Linked DNA regions of Homo sapiens: region 1 is linked to region 2. Evidence: fine-mapped expression QTL. A gene starts in region 2. The other region holds a variant in brackets. All regions are shown on one strand. Distances are between the middles of the regions.

Region 1 (11,683 bases), 62 kb before region 2:
GGCCAAAGTCAGCTTGAGTTTAGAAGAGACACATGGAATCTATTACAGAAGCATCAACCTGTGGCTTGGAAAAGTCAGCCCTTAGCCTTTACCACCCCTTCTCCTGACAATTTCTGAATTTCTATTTTTCTCTTCAAAAATACGAAGTAATTCAATATAGCATAAATCCTCTGTAATGTTTACATGTATACTGTATCTCAGGAACCAAATTCTACAAAAAAAACTTTTGCAAAAAGAAAAGGGAGGAACCATCAAAGAAACCTCAAATGAAACAAACCACTAGAAACGGGAAAATCATATTAAAAATAAACTTCTGAAATTTTGCAGCAGAACCCTTAATTTTTCCTTTGATTGTCATTTAGCTAGAACCCCCACTCCAGGTCCCCCAACAAGCTAACTCTGTAAATCCAATATCGTATGTTAACTCCCTATGCATTCCACTTTTGGCTCTCAAACTATCTGAAACATGTCTTGGAAGATTCTCCAAGTCTCCTTCTTCTCTCCATAAAACAAAAACAAGTTCATTAAAATGTCAGAATTCTGTATTCAACTAACCCCGACCAACAGTGTCCCCCACCCACACAATAATATGAAAGCACAATCCCCAAAGCATATGCATTAAATTATTGCTTTTTCAGTCACATAACTTCAGCATTTATTCTTGGCTTTCCTCCCATTCTTCTTTGTAGCCATTTTCTGGAGTCATCCACTCCATCAGTGTAGTTCCTCTAACTGTCAAACGGCTGTGCTTGCAGGTTCCACAGATTTTGCCATCTACCTATATCTTTATGTCTCCATCACTTCTCTAGTCTCTTTGCCAATCTTCCCTCATTTTGTTTAATGAACATTTAATAATGATCAGTAATTTACTGTAAGTTGAGGCTGTCAAGCTTAACATTCTAGCCAAAATGCCAGGTGTTCCAAAATTTGTGGTTTCTTATAAATGTCCTCATACTTGGTGACTTTAGCAGTATGATTTAAAATGTGACTGACTTTTGGATTCTGCCAATTATTGTTTTTATCTAACTTGGATATACTCCGAAGATAAATGAAAAGAATTTCCCATGTGATGGGACCCATCCAGAAATGCGGAGCCCCTGAGTTTTGAGGGAACGGTTGAAGATGCCTTTTTACATTTCCGCCTTTGTCTCTGATCTGCACTCCAGTTATAGAGGATACAGTGCACTATCTTATAGAATCATCACTGTTATACTTTCTCAAATTGGTGGCGGTGAAAGACACAGGGAAACACAATTAAGTCACAGGTAACTGCTGGATTAACCCAACTATCGCGCTCCATCACCCAGATGACTGCCGTATCTTCACTTCGCTGTAGCATACACACACAGCTTAACAGGAAAAACTATCAGAGCTGTGAATTCTAAGGATAAGAATGGTTCTCCTTTAGCAGACAAGCAAGATAGTGAGGGCTCAACAAATGAGACTCCTCAAAAGAGGAGTTCTCTTTGGAGTCATCCTTGTCTCACCTGATGTCTAGTGGGTTCACACCAGTAGGGCTGTACTGGTTGTTACACTATCCAAATGCTTCTACATTGGTTGTAAACAGCCACTGCCCCAAACCCCTAAGTGCCCCCACCTCTCTTACCACTTCTTTGAGATCCCCTGGATCTCTGATCTGGGGGACCACTAGGTCCCTGTCCAGCCACAGGCCAGCTCCCACTCTGACTAGTCCGCACCCATGCCATCTGGAGGCAATTTGTGCTTACCATCCTCAAAGCTGCAGTTCTCCCCACACTCTGTGGCCTCCTCTTCGGTGGGGTAGGGGGTGGTTGTCTCTTCGCTCTTCACAGTGGGTCCCAGCGTCTCTACCGTGGGCTTGGAGTCTGTGTAAGGGCAAAGGAAGATAAGAGAATGCTGTAGCAGCCTGTGTTGCAACCCAGCAGGAGGAAGATGCCAAACATCTCTAGAGAAGGGAAAGAAGATGCACACATGTGCACGGAACTCTGAAGTCATGTCTGTGTGCTGTCAACGAAGTCAGGGGCATCACCATAGTAGAATGAGAATGGTCCTGGGTTGCAGAACCAGCAGTGACAGAGGTAGGGACACAAACCCACATTCTTTACTCCACAGCAGAGGCCCCGAGTTTAGCACAAAAGGCCACGAGACAATAATGGAGGGGGCTACAGGCGACGCTGACTCCAAGGAAGGACCAAAGCACACTCTGGCTCATGTTTGCACAAAACTGGATGGACGGGAATATGGATTTAAAGAGGCTCAGACCCTACATGGTGAAAGTGATTTGGGGCTATGTCTTTAGGTCAGGGTGTGGCAAGTTCAAGTGTTTCCTGGATCCAAACACCTACTGTAAGTGAGGAAAGCAGACGTGGTTGTGAGGGCAGGGGAAGGTTGGAGAGAGAGGAGGTGGTGAAAGCTGGGATCTTACATGCCTGGTTTAAAGGTGGCCTCCATGACTGGCTCCAGCAGACTGGGGCCTGGAGGGGAGGTGGCCCAGTGTGGCCAGGCCAGGTCTTCCAAATCTTTCCCCCTTTCCTTCCCCCAACAAGAAAGCAAAAATCCCTAAGTAAAATCTCCAGACTCTACATGTTGGCAACTTATTAAAAATGTTATACTAAGTAGCACACAATGAACCCTGGCTAGGCCAAACCTGGCTGCAGGCAGGGGGTTTTGACCTCAGCTCTAGGTGATTCATTCACCTATTCATTTGCTTATTTGCTCATGCCCGTCATTCATTCAGCAACTATTGAGGGAGTGAATGGAGCTATGAGTCAGGCCCTGGGTGGGGTGAAAGGGGTTCTGGAAACTGGTGCTCAAGTCCATGTGTTTTGGGGTGGTGTCTTCATCCCAGAGCTGTCCTCCAACAGGATGCCAGTGCCTTGTCCCTCTCATTTCTATACATGCTCCTTTGCACTACTGTATGTGATTAGGCGCCTTTGTCAGGCACCCTTCAGGATACCATTTAATAAAGCCAGGAGCTGGAGGAAATTGCTAAATACGCTGAATAGCTTTTTCACGGTCGGCTTCCCACCTTTCTGCTATTAAATACTACGCACATAACCTTTCATACTTCCCTTTGCTGTGTCTGCCTTTTGCTCACAGTAAATAGCAAATAACCTCGAAGTGTCCTAATTTGTAAGTTCAAGTTTGTCACTGTGTCATAGAAACTCGATTGTAAAGCAAACTATGGGGCAGTAAGGCAAAACATAATTATTTGAAACACAAACCAACTAACAGGTGAAGCAGCCCTGTCAAAGTATTTAGCTGCAGCAGCTCAGCCCAGCCCATTATTTTTCCTGTTATCCTTTGGGATAGGGATGAAGAAGTGAACCGAAGATGAGTGTGAGAAACAGATGGAAATTCGAAAAGCAAACATAGCCACGTGACCTATGGAGAACAGTTTCTGGAAATGTTAGGTAGCAAAATGGGTCAGCTGATTGGTGTAAAGAATGTTAAACCCAGGGGCCAATGAGGCACCGGAGGGCAGGGCGTGTAAATGAAAGTGGAGGAACGGCGGGCACCGAGGCCTCGGTGTTTATACTGTTTGTACTATGTTTGTACTGGGTGCTCCAAGGTAACTGCCCATCAAACAGCAACGCTACCCCTGAAATTGAAACCAGATGTCAGAGACTTCAAAGGAAAGGAGGCTGGGCAGAGGGGAACGCTCCTCAACTCTGATCTTCCAAGGAATGGCCAGGCAGGGCTTTGAAATAAGAAACCTGTCACTGACCATCACCAGTGTAATTTGGGGCATGTTGGGATTGGGGAGCAATGAAGGAAAGAGGTCATTAGCAACTGTCCCACTGGCCAGACTGGGAGGGCATGGCACTGAAGGGCAAGGGATGGGGGGAAGAATGAGGTGGACTTCATCCAGCTGAGTGACCTCTGGCAAGTGACTTCTACCTTCTGGGGCTGTTTCCTTGTCTATGAAAGAGGAATTGGCCCAGGTCTGTGATATTTCCCAAACCACGCATCACTCTCATCATTGGGTTGTGGAATCCGTCGAATAGGTCATGACCAGCTTTTAAAACATACCGACTATAATATTTTGGAGTGCACTTCCATGGTTAAGATGACCATTGCTTTGGGAACCTTTTGTTTCAGTTACAGTTATTTATCATAACAGGTTTGCTGGGTGCAGGCAGTAGTCTAAGTATTTCACATCCATTCATTCATTTAATCCTCACAATGACCCTATGGGGTAGACAGACTATTGTCCTCTCCATTTTTCAGCTAAGATAACCAAGGCGCTGAGAGACTAACTTTTCTGAGGTTATGCAGCCAGCCAATGGCAGGGGCAGGACTTGAACTTGGCAATCTGTCTCCAGAGTCCAAGCACTTACCCATACACTGTACCCCGTATACACCACTGTGTGTGAGTGCTTATAAGTGAAGCGGGTTGTGAAGGAAAATTATTTTAAATTGTGTATCATGGGCAGAAGTGTGTGAAAGCCACTGGCTTACAAGCTCCTGGATCCCCTACAGCGCTGAGCCCCTGATTCCAGGGCACATAAATGAAGCCAGCTTGTATCGGGGGGAGGTTTTCTGCACCTGTGAGAGGACGGGTGACACACGTTTAGCAGGCTGCAGGGAACTTTGGCCTCATCCCCAGGTAATGGGGAGTTAAGTGTCTTCCTATGAAGATGTGTTCGCTGGGGCTGCCTTCAATTCAAAAGTGAGGAGGCTAATTTGGGCCCAATTCCCAGCCCGTGTGCCTCAACAGGGCTCCTCTGCGCTGCTGTAGCCAGCATACAGGCAGCATTTTTCTCCCTGGGAGCCAAAAGCACTTCTCCGACATGCCCTTATTAATCCCTCATGCCATCCTGCCGGCTGAGCCCGTGACAGGTACGGCACAGACAGGAAAATGGGGATACCTGGGGCTCTGGCGGAGGAGGGCAGGATAGCTCAGGCTGGTGGCTGCTCCTGCTGGCATCAGGCTCAGTCCCTGAGCCCCAGTGGCTCCCACAAACTCCTTTTGGCAGGCAGTGAGTGAGCTCTGGGTAAGATCTGGTGCCAGCTCTGCTGAGGGAGGAGGGCTGGCGACCCAAGGAAAGGAAGGTAGGGCCTGACTCAGAAGGGCAGGGCCCTCCCTCGGAAACCAGGAAGGCTGGGCACCCTCCGTGGGCCTCACCCTCATTTGGAATGATGAGAGGTGTTCCCCAAGGCCTGGGCCACCTGGCAGGAATGAGCAGGACAATGAGAAGGAGTCCTGCCCCCATCAGCTCCCTGCAACAGGGTCCCTCCTGAGCAAATAAATGCCTTTTACAGATGTGGCTCCGAAATGAAAATGAAGTCTCTTAGCCACTGACATCTGGAGGCCAGATTCAGACATAAACCGATTACTTTATTATCATGAGGGGTTTTTTTCTTCCCTAAATCAACAGCCACAGCCCTCTGGCCTGAAGAGCCAGGGTCTAATTGAATTTGGGTGGGTGGTGTGTGGTTATGATTTGTTTTTGAGAGACTCGGGTTGGAGAACTGAAATGATCCCTTAAAAAAGACAAAGTACATCCCTTGAGAAACTGTCCCAAGTCCAGAGGCTGCAGTACCCGTGGTCTGAGGCAGGAGAACATGGCAGGGGTCTGCAGCATTTCCAGCTCCTGGGATGGCTGCCCCCTCCACAGCCCTCCCAGGGCCTCGTGGGATGCCAGGGTCAGAGGACCATGTGGGTGAGATGCAAAGAGGAGGAAATGTCATCTTACCTGTCCAGTCACAGCCCAGCACCTCCAGCCGCATCCCAATCCCCGCCGGCGACCACCTCTCCGGGTATACCCGCACATACTGTGCCGGAATGGGGTCAAACCTTCGGATGTC[A/C]GGGGTGTCATAGTGCATGTTCCCTTCGAACAGCTGCAGGGAGAGAGGCCACTCAGCCCTTCTGGTGTGGGACCCAGTCCCTATCACCTTCTTCCCTTTCCTTCCCCTTCTCCTCCCTGCCCCGCACGTCCTGCTAGGAAGGCAGCTTCCTAGTTGATTCCTGGTCACTGGGACATTCTGATCCACGCGAGCTTCATTTTCAGACCAAGGATTTTATTCATTTGGAAGGTGGTTATGGACCCAGAATTATGGAAAATAGGAAGTAAACAAAGGTGGCAATTTCCAGGTTGTGTCTTTTACCTGGTGACTAAAATGGAGTATCTGGGGAAGAATTTGGCTCCAACTGCGTTTTCAGCTGACTTTGGCTAGAGAGGGGGGAAGGCAGTTTGGGCGATCTTTGACCGTTCTGAATTCCTGGTCTACAGGGAAAGGAACACTTCTTTTTCTAATGTGTGAAAGCCTCCATTGAGGTAACCCAAGCTGACTGATAGTTCCTAGCTCACTGAGAACCTTACGGGAAAATGACCCCTAGGCCAATGACACTGTCTTCTGGTCACACATCGATAGTCTTAGACTGTTTCCCAAACCTTTGTTTAGGGAAAGCACTCCTGTCAAAAGAAACCTCACATGGAGCCCCAGTACATAAAACTGATGATGCGGGGAGCAGGGGGCTGCTTTGGAGGACCAGCCTAGAGTACACTTGGAGACACTCATCCGGGGGAAGGACAGGAGTGGGTGGCCAGGGCCTGCAGCTGATTAGCCCCCAGAAATTCAGCAGGACCGCTCCAGTTTTCAGGATGCCCTGCGTCCACAATTCTGAACCAGAAGCACTGTCTCGGATAGGGCTGTCTCCCACAATGGCAAAGATCAACTTCTTTCCCAAGAAAAACCAGGCTCAGCTCTCCATGGGGAAGCCTGCGGTCCAACTTCTGCTCCATCGATGCAAGGTTCCAGTTACCAAGCCCTGAGCCTTTCTAAGCCTCTGGAGTTGAGAGCTGGGAGTTTACCTCAGCATCGCAAAACCTCCAACCCAACTCTTGCCTCTGTATTCAGAATGGAGACATTTGCTTAGCAAAGGTGGCCCCGAGACATGCAAACTCCCTCCTTTTTTAGGGACCTGTTCTTTTGAGAAAAACAAGGGGTAACTAGAGATAAGAATCAGAGAGCCTGGCCTGCCAGGAGACTGATCTGGGGAGGGACAGAGGTATGACGTCTCCTCCCCTTCTGGGGCTCCTTGTGTCTGTGTTGAAGGCTGACCTTCACTCTGGTGGCAGGGGAGTAAGCTGTACTGGCCTGAGCTTCTGGCTCGGGGTGAGTTTCTCTTGCTTCTCCCTTGCCTCAGTCTGAGAGGCCGGAAAGATCTAAGCAGTCAAAACTAGGAGAATACAAAGGAATGCAGCGACATTCAGAAAAACATCGTTATTTTTGGAAGTCATCCTCTAGTTTCTATAGCTTGGCCTCCAAAAACCACATCCCCTTTAGATGTCTGGCCAATTTCAAGGAAACTTTATCTGAAAGAGTGTATAAAGAGTGTTGAACTTTATAAAAAGGCAGTGTTCAGTAGGGGTTAGGCATCTGGACTTTGGAGTCAGACTTCCGGTTTCTGAATCGGCTCTATCACAGGTGAACTGTGTGACCCTGGGCATGATATCAAGTGTCAGTTTATCATCTCTAAAATGGGAGTGACAAAAAGATCTACTTTGCACAGATGTTGTAACGATTAAAAAAGAGTCCAGGCCGGGCGCGGTGGTTCATGCCTATAATCCCAGCACTTTGAGAGGCCAAGGCAAGTGGATCACTTGAGGTCAGGAGTTCGAGACCAGCCTGACCAATACGGTGAAACCCCATCTCTACCAGAAATACAAAAATTAGCTAGGTGTGGTGGCGGGCACCTGTAATCCCAGCCACTCAGGAGGCTGAGGCTGGAGAATCGCTTGAACCCTGGAGGCGGAGGTTGCAGTGAGCCGAGAACAGGCCACTGCACTCCAGCCTGGGTGACAGAGACTCCATCTCAAAAACAAACAAACAAACAAACAAAAGAGTCAGAAATAAGGTATTTAGCACAGTGCCTGGCACAAAGTAATCTCTCAAACGATATTTGTTTTATTGGATTTCAGGAGTTGGATGACGACTGTTTAGATGGGACATCATCAGTCTCAACTCCCTGTACCACACTTAGCCTCCCTGTTGAGGGTAACGTTACAGAGGCCTCCAAGAACAGCCTACCTTTGGCTGCTGGGTCCTGGGGTCCTGAATGTATTCCCAGTCCTTGCCGTTTAGGCTGTAGGAGACTTTGAACTTGCGCACAAATGCTCTGGCTTCCACAGCAGTGATACTGTCTCCTCCGCGGGCTCCCTGGATGATGACACCTTTCACTGTCTTGGGTGTTCCCAGATCTACCTGAAGCCACTCCTCACCGGGCTGGGCCTGAGGGATTCGAGGGAACCAGCCCGAGCGGCTGCTAACCAGGCGGGCTGCACTGGGGCTCCAGAGGTATTCCTGGGTGGAAGAGGCGGAGATCTGGGAGTCTGCAATGAGGCCTGAGAGCATCCCCAGCATGTTGGAGCAGGGAGCATCTGCAGAGAGGAGAGGAAGATACAAGAGGTCATGGCTGACACCTGCTAACCAGGGACCACCCGCTATAAGAAGGGAGCTGCAAAAGAGCCCAACTGTCAAATACTAAGTCAGCACTAATTTCTTTGCATGGTGAATGTGTACAGCACTGTGGTTAAGAGCCTGGACTCAGAGCTAGACTGCCTGTGTTCATGTTCACTCTGCCACTTACTAGTCAGAGGGCCTTGGGCAAATTATTTAATTGCTCTTTGCCTCAGTTTCCTTAGATCTAAAGGGGAGCTAATAGAGGTGCCTACCTCTTGAGGGCTGTTGCAAGGATTCTGTTAGTTACTAAGAGCTCACAGGATGGTGCCTGGCATATTTAAGTATCCAATGGCCATTAACTATTTGTGCTTACAGCTCTAACCAAGGACTCTCAGAATGTGTGTCTGCACATCCCTGTCGATGACACTAGTCCCCACTGACCCTATCAGGGACACTGAGAACAGGGGAACTGAGCTAAACATTGAATTATTTCCTAGTAATTGTTTTGCCAAGTAGAAGGAAACCTTCCTGGCATCAGTATCAGGTCTTTACTTCCCAAATAACTGCTCTTTACTGCCTTGGATCCTTCCCACATGCTGTTCCCATTACCCCAAATGCTTTTCCCTTCAGTCACCCCCAGACTAACATTTTCTTACCCCCAAGCTCAAGTGTCATATCCACAGAAAAGCTGTTCCCAAATTTTCAATCCTCACTAAATTGGTTTCCCTCAGAGCACCCTGTTCTTTTCCTTCATGTGCACATTCTAGTTTATCCAGTACTTGCATTTGTTTATTATCTATCTTGCTCAGTAGCCTGAAAGTTCTACGATGTCAGAGACCCCATCTATTTTGTTCCTGTCTCTATGTCCCATTCCCAGTGTGTGCCTGGCACATCAGATGTGTGGAACAAATGATTGAGTGGAGAATGCATGAATAAATGATGTCAGGCAAGGCAGGGTCTATAGTCAATGTGCATTTCATACTTGCAAACTGAGCTATGGATAAAAAAGATCCTCCACGTTGTTCCCCTTCTTCAAAATCACTGGTTCTCTCCTTTCAATCTTCCAGAGAATGACCTCTACCTAAATCTTTGCTGATTATCCTGGAACAGCAACAGGGAAGGGACAGAAAATAGTCCCCTAGACAGGATTAGCATAAACTGATCCCATTAGAAGAAAATGGGTCTTTGTGTAAATGTGGTAAGAGCAGAGAATTTGAATTGAGAAAACGTGGGTTCAGATCCTGGCTCTGTCACCTCCTAGTTGAATGACTTTGGGCAAGCTATTTAGCCTCTTTGAGTCTTGGTTTCCTTATCAGTCCCTGGCCCACCTTACCTCACAGGGTTGTTAGAAAGTGTAGGCAAGATGATAAACAAGAAAGGCATGTGGAGATGCAGAGACTGTACAAACACAAGGTGTTTTAACTAGAAACCTCAAACAGGGTCAGACCTTGGAGCACTCCCTGTCAGAGCTGGAATGATTAGGGGAAAGGCACGTGGATGGATGTACACTGAAGACACTTCCAGGTCAAAGAGGCAACTTGCCTGCCCTGGGCTGAGCCCACAAGATAAAGGGGATTGGTCTGTCCATAAATTTCTGGGGCTAATCCAGCCATCATCATCTCCCATCTGCACCCCCTGCATTGCCTCCTATAATGTCCCAACTCCCACTCTGGTCTTCTCCAATCTACATGCCTTGGGTTTCAGCCCACAAGCTGTGTCCATGCTCCTCACTTCCTCTTTTGGTCCCTCTTGCCACCGTGCCATTGAGAAAGCTGTGACCATTGCCTGGTGCACCTTCCCTCCCTTCTTCACCAGGTAATGTCTGTTATTTGCCTTCTAACCTCACCTCAATCATCACCTCCTCAAAGAAGTCTTCCTTGAGCTCCTAGGCTGGGTCAAATCCCCTACGATGTACTTCCAAGGACCATAAGCCTCTATGTCCAGACATTGATCATAGTTTTGATTTTATATTTATTTATGAGTTTATCAGTATGTCTGCCCAACTTGTCCATATGCCCACACAGAACAGTCTGTTGTGCCCACCTTTGTGTCCACAGCACCATGCACAGCTCTTGGCCCCCGGTTGAGGCAGCAGAGAGTGTTATTTGAAAGCAAGGGCTTTGGACTGGAACTGCCTAGATTCAAACCATGGCTCTACCACTTACTGGTGAGTGACCTAGCTCTTTAAGTCTTGGTTTCCTCATCTGTAAAGTGAGGAGAATAATACCCATGGAGTCCTTATGAGGATAATAAAATATGTTACATCTTAGGTGCTTAGAATGGCATCTGTACCTAGTTAGCATTCCATAAATGTTAGCTATTAATAGAAATCGTAGATGCTTAATAAATGTATACTGAATGAATGAATGAAAAGACAAACTCTGGTAGGACTTGAGTCCTTGAGCCAGTCTTTCTGGGAAGGTCATGTGGTGCAGTCATGCTGTTTGCAGAGAGTTGAAAGGGAGCAGAGCCTAGGGCTCAATCAGCACCCCAACCTCATTGGAGCCCCCACCTCACCTGTGACCCGGCAGCCGAAGAGCTCCAGCCGGAGGGCGATACCTGAGTGCCAGGTCTGAGGGCGGATTCTAACAAACCTTGTCAGCAGTGGAGCGTGGAGCTTGTTCAGAACCACCTCAGTTGCATCGTTGTTGGCTTGAAATACCTGTAGCGTAAGATGCAAAACCATGTTATTGAAACCCCTGTTTGTAGTTCAGCCACTTGAGCAGTCTTTGAAGGGGATGGGAAAGTTCTGTCAAATTTTCTTTCCCTCAAGCTTAAAAATAATCAGTGGGTATGTTGTTTTGGGCTTTTTAAAGAAACACTGTAAAAAAAATTAATTTCTCACACTGTTCTACTTGAAAATTATCAGTGGTCTTCCCAGAAACTTTTAGAGGGAAGGAAAATTTTGCCTCCAGGCTGAGAGCAGGCAGAAGAAGGAAAACACTTGAGAAGCTAAGGAAGAAAGAGAAAAGTAGAATATCTGTTTAAAATGAAGTAAAAATATCATCTTTTAGGGCTACCAGACCTCACTCACTAGCTTGAACTTGACACTCCCTCTTCCTCATGTTGCAGGCACCTAGGAATATTTGCAGAGCATTTTCTAATTGCAAAGTGCTTCACGGTTGTTTTTGTTAGTTACTTGATGCCATCCCACCCATGAGCGGACAAGATGATGAGGGGCACCCTCTACCTACAATGGCCCTGTGTCAATCAACACTTTCTTGGTTCTCTCTGATCTTTGTGGCAGGGTCAGGGTTGCAGACAGTCCTTCAGAGTCCTGCTCCAGCTTCCTCTC
Region 2 (11,683 bases):
AGGATGGAAGGGGAGGAAAAGGAAAGGAAATGAGAGATTAAAAAGAAAATAGGAGGTAAGAATACTGAAAACAGAGGAAGAAGGAGGGAAAAAATGCAAGGGAGACATAAATCTAAGATAAGAACTCAGCAGAGAATATTCTCTGAAGAAGAGCATGGCGAGAGATAATATGGTGCTTACAAAACACAGAGGTTTGGTGGTGGAAGAACTGAGAATAAGAATTATTTTTTAAATCTCATAAAAATCAACTTACCACAATGGTTATAGTGTGCTTTCTACGATCACGAGATTCCACTAACCCCACTGAAACAGTTTTAAAGATTCAGTGACTTCAGAATGGGCTTCATATGTGCCAAACAGTATTCTACATAATCTGACATAGCCCAACAACCCTATGAAGTAGGTATTGTTACCAAACACATTTACAGACAAGGAAACCGAGGCACATAGACTAAGTATCTGATCACACAGGATACTGGGATCACAGAGCCAGCAAGTGGCTGAGCTAGATTCTAAACCCAGGCAGTCTAGTTCCCATGTTTCAGAAGCTGGGAAGGCCAGGGATGATCCCCACAAAACTTCTCAGTGGCAAACCTACTTGGTAGCATTTAGGGAAAGACAAATATTTTGCCTGTTTGAAAACCCCCTTTTCTCTGCCTGTGCCAGTACTCTGTCTGTGTGAACAATGAGAGATGTGTTTGAGGCTGGGGTGTGAGTGGGCTGGAAGCACTTAACACCTTCTCCACTCCCTGTACACACAGGCACTCAGCTCCTTGTCATCCTGGCCCTCTTTCCTGTGTTCTGGAAACCCTAGGCATGGGGCCGGGGAGGGCGGGTGATGGATAGGAAGTTCAGGTCTGAAACCATGTATCACAACATCGAAGGGTTTTTTTGTTTTTTTTGTTTTGTTTTGTTTTTTTGTTTTTTGCCAACTCCTATTTCTCTCCTTTCTTCTCAATCCTACTCTTCTCTATCCTAAATGCCACATTGTTATTGTTCTACTGGATAGGAGTAGCATTTTCAGAAATGGGGGATTTATTTTTATAGCACAGCTGGTCTGCCAAAGGTCACATAATTTGGCAATGTTCCCAGTGGTTAAAAATTAATTTCTCCTTATTAATACAACCAAGGTCCCAGAGGATCGGAGCTCAGCCTTATCTAAACTTGACAGCTTCCTAAACCTTTAGAAGATGCTTTCTCCTGGAGGGCCAGCCATGATACAAGGCCACTGTGTCCTGGAATCCTACTCCACTGAATCCTGTTAGGCAATGAAACCATTAAGCCTCTGACCATTTCTCATCAAGGCAGATAAAGCTTTGAAAAATACTGTAGCTCTCCAGGACAAACTTCTGCAGCATCTTCCAGAAATGGGTTAATTAAAAAACAAAAATCAGCAAACAGCCAAGTCCTTACCTGGAAGGAACAGTACAAAGACTAACTTCTGGTGATCAATATACTTATCTGCCACTCAAGGAAGGTATCTCAAAGATTATCCAGTTGCAAGTGATGGTCAGATAATAAAATACCTCAAATATGTTAATAACACTACAAGCCATTGCCCAGATGACACTTTTCAAGTCCTTTCTTGTCAGTTCAAGAAATTAAAAAGATATTCTTCTTTTGCTCTATCTTTTAAGAAAGGAAGATCTCAGCTCAAGTTCCTAAAGTCTTTCCAAACTGGACCTTTGGAGAATATATTTGGAAACCTCTTTACCTGGCTCTTGAATTCTGTCAACTCAGAATTGTCTTACACTCAGGTCATCCTGAGTCAGTTCATTTTCCTGATTGCTTTAGGGAAGACTTGAGTGAAATGAAAAACACCAGGGTCCCCAGAATCATCTGGTCCCTGGTGTCTCTCCTCACTGACCCCAGACCCCTCCCTCACTGTCATTTGTATTCGTGCCTCACTGCATATGAATTGGCATTTGGATTCCTAGCTTTTTCTATGCCTGGAAGATAGGAACTGGCCTTTCTGCTGCAGAACGTGGACTTGATACATTCAACAGCAGGGGATCAGAGCCATTTGGTAGACAGCAGGAGTCCTGTCTGGGTAGCCTGGGTTCCAGTCACTGCAGCCTTCCAATCTTTCATTTTGCCAGTTGAGTGCTCCGTAGCTTAATGTCTGAGGGCTCTATGGGATGACATAAAACTCCAAACCTGATGTGCACTGGCGCATTCACAATTCCACCAGGCACCGCTTGGACGAGTAGGGGCCTGCCCGGGGCCCTTTGGGGAGTGCTCCTCTTGCCACTGTCTTGCACTGTGTGCTCTGCTGGCAACTGGCCACAGCTTCCCTACCTCCAGGAGCTGATCACGGGGGAAAAATGTTTACTGGGTACCCATTTAATGTGGGCATGAGACCAATCCCTAGAGCCCAGAGCAGGCCGTCTGCGTAAAATCTAGGAGTTTACAGTTTACTTGCAAATTATTATGCTCGCCAATGGCCATCTCACATTTTGGGGAGACAGGCTAAAAGAAACACTTCAAACCCTTATCCGGCGCCTAGACCGTCATTGCTTCTCTTTCAGGATTTGTCTGAACCCAGACCTGTCTCCCACAGCCAATTTACACCTCTTATCTGATCATCCAGTCCAGACGGAAGGGTGAATTGACCGAGAATCTGCGCGTGTCCATGGCAATGGCGTTAAAACCCAAGCATAGATCAAAGCTCTCCAGACGAGGAGGGGAGGGGTAGATGGTTATGGGGTCTGGGTTCTTTTGGCCCCAAGCGATGTGTCCCGGAGGTGGGGACATTAGGCCTGGGAGTTGCCACCATTTGAAGAAACCCATTGTCAGGACTTGAATGATTTTCTGAGCAAAACCCAGTCCCCCCGCAGATCATGATTAACTCTAGCAAAGGGGACGTTCGTAGTGGGCGCTGATCGGGAATGGCTAGCGCCAGGGGGCTCTCCTCTCTGTCTGAAACCGAAAGAACAGGAAGTGGAGGGAGGGGAGCCGAGCAGGGAGCACACGCCAATAAACCTGAGCGTGGATCTCCTATCTTTTAGAAGAAATTCAGCCGGAGCCGCAGAAGCCGCAACGCATATGGGCAAGATCCCCTAAAACTTGGTCTGGAAAGCTGATTCCCGAAGGTTCCCCAACCCAGATGATTCCCAGAGGGGCGACAAGTCTATTCCAAATCCCTCCCCCACCTCCAAACACTAGGGCTACCGGCGCCCGCCACCCAGCCGCTGGACGCCTGCGACCCGGTGGGAAAGACCCCCGGCACAGCCAGCCCGAGTCGAAGGGCGGGGGCAGCCCTTCAATCAGAGCGCGCCTTGCCTCCATTAACTTGTGTTGATATTAAAAAGAAATCAATCAGTGAAAATGAAGCATCGGCCGTGAACATTTCTTTTTCTCACGTGGAAAAGCAAAGAGCGAGGCGGCTGGGGAGGGGAGGCGGGAACTCGCCGGCGGCTGCAGGCAGAGGCTTCTCCAGAGACCAGCGCTGCAGCCGAGACCTAACTTTCCGGCATAGGGCAGCGTTGAAGAAATGCCGCAGGCTTTTCCCTGGGGGTGTCCTTAGGAGGAGGAGGAGGAGGAGGGCACAAGCATGGAGTAGTTGGAGGCGGCCAACTTCGCGGAGGCTTCAGCCTCGGTTTTGCTTTCGCTGGGAATATTTTTGCTTAATAGAATGTTTATGGATCGCTGGGCTCTGTTTCTGCTGCGTAGCCCAAACAAATCGATGCGGCGTTAGAGAAGGCGCTGGGGGGCGGGGAAGGGGAGGGAGGGCTAGGAGGAGAGCTGAGGGGCTATCACGTCCCCACCACGTGGATGGCCGCACGCCGCGTGCTCTTCACCTGTTCCTGCGCACCGGCGGGCGCTGGGCGCGCGGCGCTTCTAGAGGCTGTGCAAGTTGCGCGCATTCCTGGGGCTCAAGCTGGTTCCTTCCCGCCTCTCTCCGCCCTCCTCTCCGAAATCCCACCCCAGTTTCCTCTCACCTAGTTGGGCCAGCGCTTGGATTCCCAAGCCAGCCGGCCTCGGCCTCCCGCCACTCAAAGCCGTCTCTCTAGGGGTCGCGGCGAGCCTGCCGCGCAGAGCGGAGCGCAGGGGACTGGCGGGGGCGCCCGGGGCAGGGAGGGAGGCAGGCTAGCGGCTGCACTGCGGTCTGGCGAGGCGGCGCAGTGAGGAGAGGGGCAGCCTGGTGCGCGTCGCCCATGCGGCCTCCCAGCCACGCGCCAGCCCAAGGTGCCGCGCGCCGCGACCGCCGTGTTATTTGCTCAGTTGCTCCCCCGCGCGCACCTTCTGCCCCATCTTGCTCCTTCCCAGAATTGGTTCTCGTCGCCGGCGGCGGCGGCTGAACCAGGCCCCCTTCCCGGCCGGCGCACACCGGGTGAGTCAGAGGTATGTGGCTTGGCCTCGCCCTGGCCACCCGCTGCCGGCTCCCAGGGTGCCAGTGCTTTGCTCCGCCTGAAAGCCTGAGCAGCTCACGGCTTGAGATCGCATTTTGGGGAGCTGGAGGTCCCTGGCAGGTCCCAGCTTCGAATCCCACCCTGAGATCCCACCCCGGGTCCGAGGTTGCCCCGAACTCCGCGCCTCTGGGCTTCTCTGGAAGTGACGCAGCACTGCTGGGGATTGGGATGGGAGGGGGTTCTGCAGAGAGCGCGGCAGGCAGGTGGCAGAGCGGGAGTGGGTCCAAGCGGGTGTCGCGCACACACGTACACACACTCCAAGCAGCGCTCGGGGACAGATGTGCGAACATCTGGGGTAGGAGATGGCCCCTGAGTCTTCACGACCCCTCCCGCTCCGCACAGCACACGGAACCTGAAGTTGCATGTGTGTGCGCGCCAGTGTGAGTGCCAGTGTGTGCGCGCTCGCGCGCTGGGGCCTACTGGAGTCCGTGTCTGAATACATAATATACTGTGGGCATCCTCACGGCGCGCGCGCGTGTGCACACACACACAGCGAATCACACAAACATACATAATTTACGCAGCATCCAGGTCTGTGAGTGGTAATTTAATTCCGCTTCAAGCTGGGAATTTAGAAATAAGGCAAGGGGGAACGGCGGAGGCCCAGAAAATCTCCCCAAGTGGGACCCCCACCCATCCCTTTGGCAGGATTTGCAGCTGCCCTGAAGACCACTTATGGCAAAGAAAGAGCTGCAAACGTGCGGATCTGGGTGGCAAAGGCATTCCTGAATTTTCTTCCCCCCTCAAATAAATGCCCAAGCTTAAAGTGGTGTGTGTGCTGGTGGGGGGCGTGAGGAGAAGGAAGGGTGACAGTACCAGATGCAAGGCTAGGATCCACTAGCTGATGTTCTGGGGATGCCAAGGAGGCTGCAGAGTTAGCTCTACCACTGCCGCCATCGCCTTGCAAGTGCCTTGGGTGAGGGCACTTCAGGAAGGCTTTTTCGCCTTTCTTTCACCCATTTCCTCCATAGATGGTTTCTCCATCTCCAATCACCTGTAGCAGCTGCTAAGAGTTTTGTTGTTAGATTCCAGACACTGTTCTCAGAGGGGTAGGGAGGCTCACTCTAGAGAGTGGTCCGAGAAGGAAGCACAAACCCCACTGCATTCCCCATGGATTCCCCTTTCCAGAGCATACCCCTTGCCGCTCCCCACAAATGCGGTCCCCAGACTGTTCTGGGCCTCGAAATGCTTATCTCCACAGCAGCCTGTCCACACACCCTTTTTGGCAGTGGTTGAGAACAAATTCCACTCAAAAGTTTCTAACCACTTCACAAGAGTGAGAGACCTTCGAGGGCCTGCAATTTGTTTTAGCTAATAATAATTTCTAAAAGAACGTACGATTTACTTTCCCAGACAACACATGGATGAAGAGAGAAGAGACCAACCGTCTTGGTTGCCAGCAGCACCCAACCCCAAGCCCCTATCTCAGCCACAAGCCAACTTGCTCCACCAGCCTGAGCCTTATGATTCTGAAGCATAACCAGTCATTCTCCAAAGAATCTACAGCATCTGAAAACCAAAACTAAACTCTTGTCTTTCCCAAGCCCTTCAGTTAACATTGCTCAATGTAGCTAAGTGGAGGGAATGCAAATGATTTATATTTCACTGGCTAGTTGGAGAAACTCAAGGGAGATGTGTTCTGCTTCAAGACAGGGAAAAAAAATTCCCAAAAACTGTAATGCAAAGGCTTTGTAGTATTTTTAAACCTTTGATTCAGTCCATATGTGACATATGAACACCGCCAAATTCTGTTTCAAAACACACTCACACACACACACACACACACACACACACACTCCTAGCAGGAGAGGAAAGTTGGGTTTTAGCAGCCGTGGTGGTGTAGGAAGGGCCGGCTGGGATCTCTCTTTAAATTATTGAGTACTGAGGGAGCCTTCTTCTGTGCCGTTCTGCGTGGCCTTCCTGCTTTAGCGGTCACTTTTAAAGGGGAAACCATGTTGCAATAAATAGAAAAACTTTCAGTGGCTTACCTGGTTGGCCTCTCACTTGGTGTCTTGAAAAGTAGAGGGCTAAGAAAACCCAGGTGAGAGGAAACATATCCATTTTGGAGAAGGTGGCTCTTTCCAGAGCTGGGTTCGTAGGTTTCTTGTTTAAATCTTTGTGTTTTTCTCTCTTTTATTTTCCTCCTTACAACGTCTTATGCAGAGGTTTCTAATGGTCAGCGTTTCCCTCCTGAGTCCTGGTGGCTTGTCTTCACCTCTATTCTTGCTGGAATTTCCACCTCACCAGGAGGAGAGTAGCTCCTGAAATCAGCAAAGAGGGAACAAGCCGGGAAGAGAACACGGTTTTCCTCTTAAAAACAAAACGCATATATGTTCTCTCCAGTTCCTCAAAGTGTCATTTCCTTTATCCTACAAATATCACGAGTATTTCCCGAAAGCCAAGCGTAACAATAATGATAATAATAATAATTAAAACCAAGACTTGCCTTGGGCATCACACGGCCCCCAGGCAGCTGTGTGATCTCAGAGGCGTAAACTGACACACATCCCGCGGCACCCTTGACGGACACACGGGCGGAGGCAGCCGCCGCCGGACAGCCCGAGTGGAAGGCGGCCGCCCTGCTCTTGTCCTCGCCGGGTTCCCCCGGCGGGAGCCTCCCCCAACGGCTACACCCGCTTGGCCAGCCTCTCGAGGGGAGTCTGAGGAAGGAAGCTGCTGCTGCTGTTGCTGCTGCTGGTGCGGCGGCGGTGGCGGCTGGGATCGCCTGGGAGTGAGCGAGCCCCTCTCCGAGTTCGCTGGCGCCCGCCCTCACCTCCACCTCGCCGAGTGTCTGTGCGGCTGAGGATGTGCTGGGGGCCGGCTGCAGGCTGGTGCCTCGCTCGCGATCTCTGCCTCCCCTCCGGCTCCCCACTGCCTTTTCAGGCCGAGCAGCATGTGGATGTCAGAGCCGCGGCAGAGCTATCCGATTACGCGCCGGCTCAGGGCCCGCCCCTTCTGTGTTCCTGATTAAAGAGGCAGCCGCGGAGACGCGCGGCGCAGAGCAGAGTGCCGCGGCACCCAGCTCGGGCGGGGCGGCGACGGCTTCTCTCGGGCCGCCGCAGGATCGAAGTTAAGGCGGCGCCCATCCCACCACCCCTCGCCCGCCCCGCATCTCCCGATCGCCCCCGCGCACCTCCGCGCCGGGCCGCCGGTGCGTAACGCCCTGGGGAAGAAGCGCCCCCGGGCACCCCCAGGGCGCGCCGCCTTGGCCGTGTCGCCCCCACCCAAGGGAGACCCCGGGGGGACGGGGGGAAAAGCCTTGTTCCCCCTAAATTCCACGACTCCGATGCCACACACGCAGAACCCAACACAATGCCACGCGCGATGGCGTTACAAGAGGAGTTGGGTGGCGTACGGTGTTTGGGGTAGCGAGCCGGTCGGCAGCTCAGCCATGCGTTCGAACAGGCAGCGGTGCGTGGCGGCGACACACACCGTCAGCCCGGTCTGAATAAAACCCCAAACACTCGCTGCGTTTACTACTCAGATCCTTTGTTATGTCCCAAACATGCTCTGCTCCTCTCTGGGTTAGGATTTCGTTACCCCTGCGCCTTTAACTGTAACTACCCTAAAAAGAGGAAAGACTTTCTTCAGCAAATAATTTCTTCAGGTAATTAAATTGGATTCCATCAAGTTCCCCCGAAAAAGTATAGGTGCTTGAAGGCGTCTCATCCAAATGCTACTGTAACTACGTCTATTCACATTTTCCCCCATGGAAACGTGGTCACAAAGCCTAGAGAAAGAAAACATCATTATGCCAACTATTTTTAAATGGAGGCGTGAAAACTGTTTAGAGGGAACTGCAAGCTAACAGTTGGGGAAACACTTGTATCTTTGTTTCTGAGGATGGCTTTGTGGATTCCAAACTGTCTTGCTTCACCAGACACCTATTACTACATTATCATAAAGACTGCAACAGAAACAGCCTAAATTACACCCTGCACATGTACACCTTTTCTGCCACAAAAGAGGTATATGAAAAATAAGAAAATTCAGAAAAATATTTACAGATTAAGATTTTTTTTAAATTAAGAAAGTAAAATTTTCTGTAGATTAAGAAAAATACAGTTTCGGTGACGAGAAACACACACCTGACTACCCATTTTCTTCTTGGCTTGTACTTGTGGATTCTTCTGGGTGGTTTCCCTCCTTATCTGGACTTGCCCATTAGCTTTATCACTTTTAGTGTTTGAAAAATCTGTAACTCCCACTTAACTGTTATTTACACTGAGATAACCAAAACAAAATTGAATCAGAAGTGATTTGCAAATAGTTGAGCCAAGCTGTGTTGGGGGGTGGCGCGGGATTTTAGAGTGGAAATCCACAGGCTGAGTATCACACTGTTAATCTCAGATGCCTGGTTGGGAAAGGCACAGCACAGAGGCCTCTGAGTTCTTCCAGGGAGCATGTCTCTTGGCTAGCCTAAATGCTACCTTTCATTCCCTCTTTGCCTCCCTCCTTCCTCTTCCTCCCTCCTTTCCTTCCTTCTTCCTTCCTTTCTAGGCTTGAGAGCACATCCACATTATTAAAAACTCCAGATTTACATTTCTCCTCTTTAAAGCTCAATTGTAAAGAATGACTCCAAGCCTTAAATATTTAACAAAGTAAAAGAGCAGTTTGGATTATTAACCTTAAGCAGAGATCCCGGTTTATGTCATTGCCAAGATGCTAATCTAAGGACAAAGAACGCTATCTGTAGTGACAGTCCCTGAATAGAGAGGGCCATTTAATATCACCTCTCCCCACCACTCACCAGGCATGCCAAACCATTTTTGCCAGTGCCCAATGTGGGAGACTCCTGTTTGTGAGAATAATGTAGCCAGGGTTTAGGTGAAGGGCACTGTGAAAGGGGGAAAGAAGAGAGAAAAGGTAAACCTAAGCCCACTGGAGAACCATAAGAATGACAACCCTGGACTTCTGGTCTTGGGGTCTCAGGGATGAAGGTCCCCATCAGGCTGCTTCCAGAGTAGAGAAAAGTAAGAATCAGTTTTGTTCCTGGCCTGGTTGCCTACACTGTAACTTTTCATTTTTCAGCGGTGTCCTACAGGGGACGCTCACTTACTTCCTGGGAGTCCTCTGTACCAGGGCTGCAAGACTTCCCACTCCCCTTGAGTGAAGGCCTCATTTCCTGCAGTTGGACAGAGAGTGAGTCTCAGGTTTCCATCCCTGGGGACTCAAGCGGCCAGACCATTTTTCAATCCTCTAGGGGGCAGCACTCAATAAATAATGGTAACACCACCCAGGGTCACACTTCTGGTGGTGCTTTTAATTCCAAGGAGTTCAAAGTGCTTTATCAGACCAGGGAAGATTCAGAGTGAGGCCGATCTCTCCCCAGCCTACTCTGAACAAGACCCCACCGGCCCAGAGAGGGCTTAGAATTGTTTTAACCTAAGACTTCCAAGGACTCTTGGGAACTAAACACAAATCTCACATGTGCCACATGGAAAACAAATCTTTAGGGAAATTCTTCACACTGGGACTGGCTCAGACCTGCCAGTCTTGTTTCCCTCTAGACTGGGATCTCAGGGTTTGACTGCAGTTGGTCTGGTTTCCACCAGAGGTATAGTGGTAAAGAGCTAGGTAGGCACCGTGCTTTTCAGTATTTTGTGAGTCCACATCCCTGGCCCATAGGGAAGCCTGCCTACCTAAAGGCCAGTGTCAAAAATCGGGTTTGTGATCAAAAACACTGAGCTGACTAGATAACAGCTAATTAGCGAAGCTGAGATTCCTGGCCACATCACTGACTCACCTAGGATGTTTCATGTCATTATCCTTAGTTGTAAAATAATACTAGATAATCCACTCCACATTCCATTCCTTTGACGGGAAGGGATGTGGGGGAACATGAAACAGGTTGGTAAATGATGCTAAGAGAAAGCTGTTACCAAGCCACACCCCTGTGGAAAGTTAAGTGTTCCCAGCTAGACAGTCCCAAACCTTAGGGTATATCAGCATCACCTGGAGGAAGTGTTAAAAATTCTGATTCCTGGGAACCATTTTCCTGCAGGTGAAATTCCTTGGGTCTGGAGTGGTCTTTGGGAATCTGTATTTTTAACACACATCTTAGGTGATTCTGATGCAAAGCCTCCACAGACCAGTAGTTGGGAACTTCTGATCTGATGTGTTCTATTTACACACAGCCTTCCATAAATGCTCTTCCGTTGAAGGAAACCTGGACAAGCATTCCTTCACATTTCCTCTCTGGGTACTTTTCAATATGGGGCAGATGTTTCAGGTTTCTTGGAAAAACCACCAAGAACAAGTTCTCGAAAATGCTGCAGTGGTGGAATTCCCAGATTTACCTGTGACCTTTAGCAGCAACTGCAGAGAGCCAATTTGAAAACACCAAAAGCCTCGCCTCATGCAGGCAGGAGCTTTGCAGGGACATGTTCAAAGTAGCGGCTGATGGGTTTATGAGCTGGAGCCAGACCTTTCATCACCAGCCCACTCAACCATTGGTGGTTACTAGAGGTTCGTTTCAGGTATGCTTTTCCATCTGTGTTCATCCCACTGTACTTACGAAATGTTCATGGATGCATGACTATGCCAGAGGTATGCGAGCAAGACAGAGATTTAGGTCTTGCCTCTCGGGAACACAGGATCTAAAAGCTCCAGAAGTTTCATGCTTCCACAATAGATATCACGTGTCACATGGTGCTTCCCCTTATCGGAGCCCTAACATCAATAAGCTCTCACCCTGAAAAGGAAAGATCTAAGGCATAATTGCATCTTAATCTGTAATTTAACACACTGCCCTAGTTAAGGTTTAGCTACATCTGTCTCAGAAGCAAAGCTTCAGTTAAAATGGAATAGGTCCTAATTTATTATTCTCTCTTTTGTTTGATGTCAAAGTCCAGGTTTCTGGTCACTAAGGGTTTTTTTTTTTTTCTTACTCGCCTTTTAAACAATCAACTTTTTTTTTTTCCAGCACACTTGAATATTGCCCAGTAGTTTCTATTTGACATTTCTATTCTAAATTGATATTTCTAGTATATTCTATTTGGTGGGTTTCTGGAATCCTTACAGATTTCCATAAAGTATTGAAATCTCCTTCACTCCATACTGGGTGTATATCTCATTTCTTCCTCAGACACAAACACTGGATCTGGTAGGAGGGGCCCTTATGAAACAAAATTTAAAAAGCAGCAGCAAAATGTGCAAAATTCATTCAGACCTCCCTGGAATCCTTGGAAAAAGAACCTAAAGAAGCCCTATTGCTTCTTCCAGTCTGCCTGGCTTTAGCATGAGTCTGATCTTCCTATGCTACATTAATT

Alleles and levels. Positions count from the first base shown, and alleles are read on the strand shown. Sizes are in standard deviations (SD) of each study's normalised expression.
For the expression in monocytes after interferon gamma of the gene that starts at base 7,263 in region 2, allele C in region 1 goes with a lower level than allele A (moderate effect, 0.66 SD a copy in Fairfax 2014).

Evidence for each region.
Region 1: its variant is fine-mapped to the expression of NRP2 in monocytes after interferon gamma (Fairfax 2014, PIP 0.95). The same link has a PIP of 0.9 or more in monocytes after LPS.

Annotation. Positions count from the first base shown.
Region 1 is chr2:205,739,886-205,751,568 of GRCh38, reverse strand. It overlaps NRP2 (neuropilin 2), which reads right to left. Exons shown (of 17, transcript NM_003872.3): 8 at 10,906-11,050; 9 at 8,017-8,366; 10 at 5,679-5,823; 11 at 1,728-1,844. Among named protein-coding and RNA genes, the nearest start is that of NRP2, 63 kb to the right of the region's middle. RefSeq lists enhancers at 1,544-2,166, 2,167-2,790, 2,791-3,414, 4,381-4,932. The variant A/C (reference allele first, on the strand shown) is at 5,791.
Region 2 is chr2:205,678,081-205,689,763 of GRCh38, reverse strand. It overlaps NRP2 (neuropilin 2), which reads right to left and starts at 7,263. Exons shown (of 17, transcript NM_003872.3): 1 at 6,401-7,263. The coding sequence starts at 6,473. RefSeq lists enhancers at 4,638-5,268, 10,150-11,349 and a silencer at 7,743-7,862.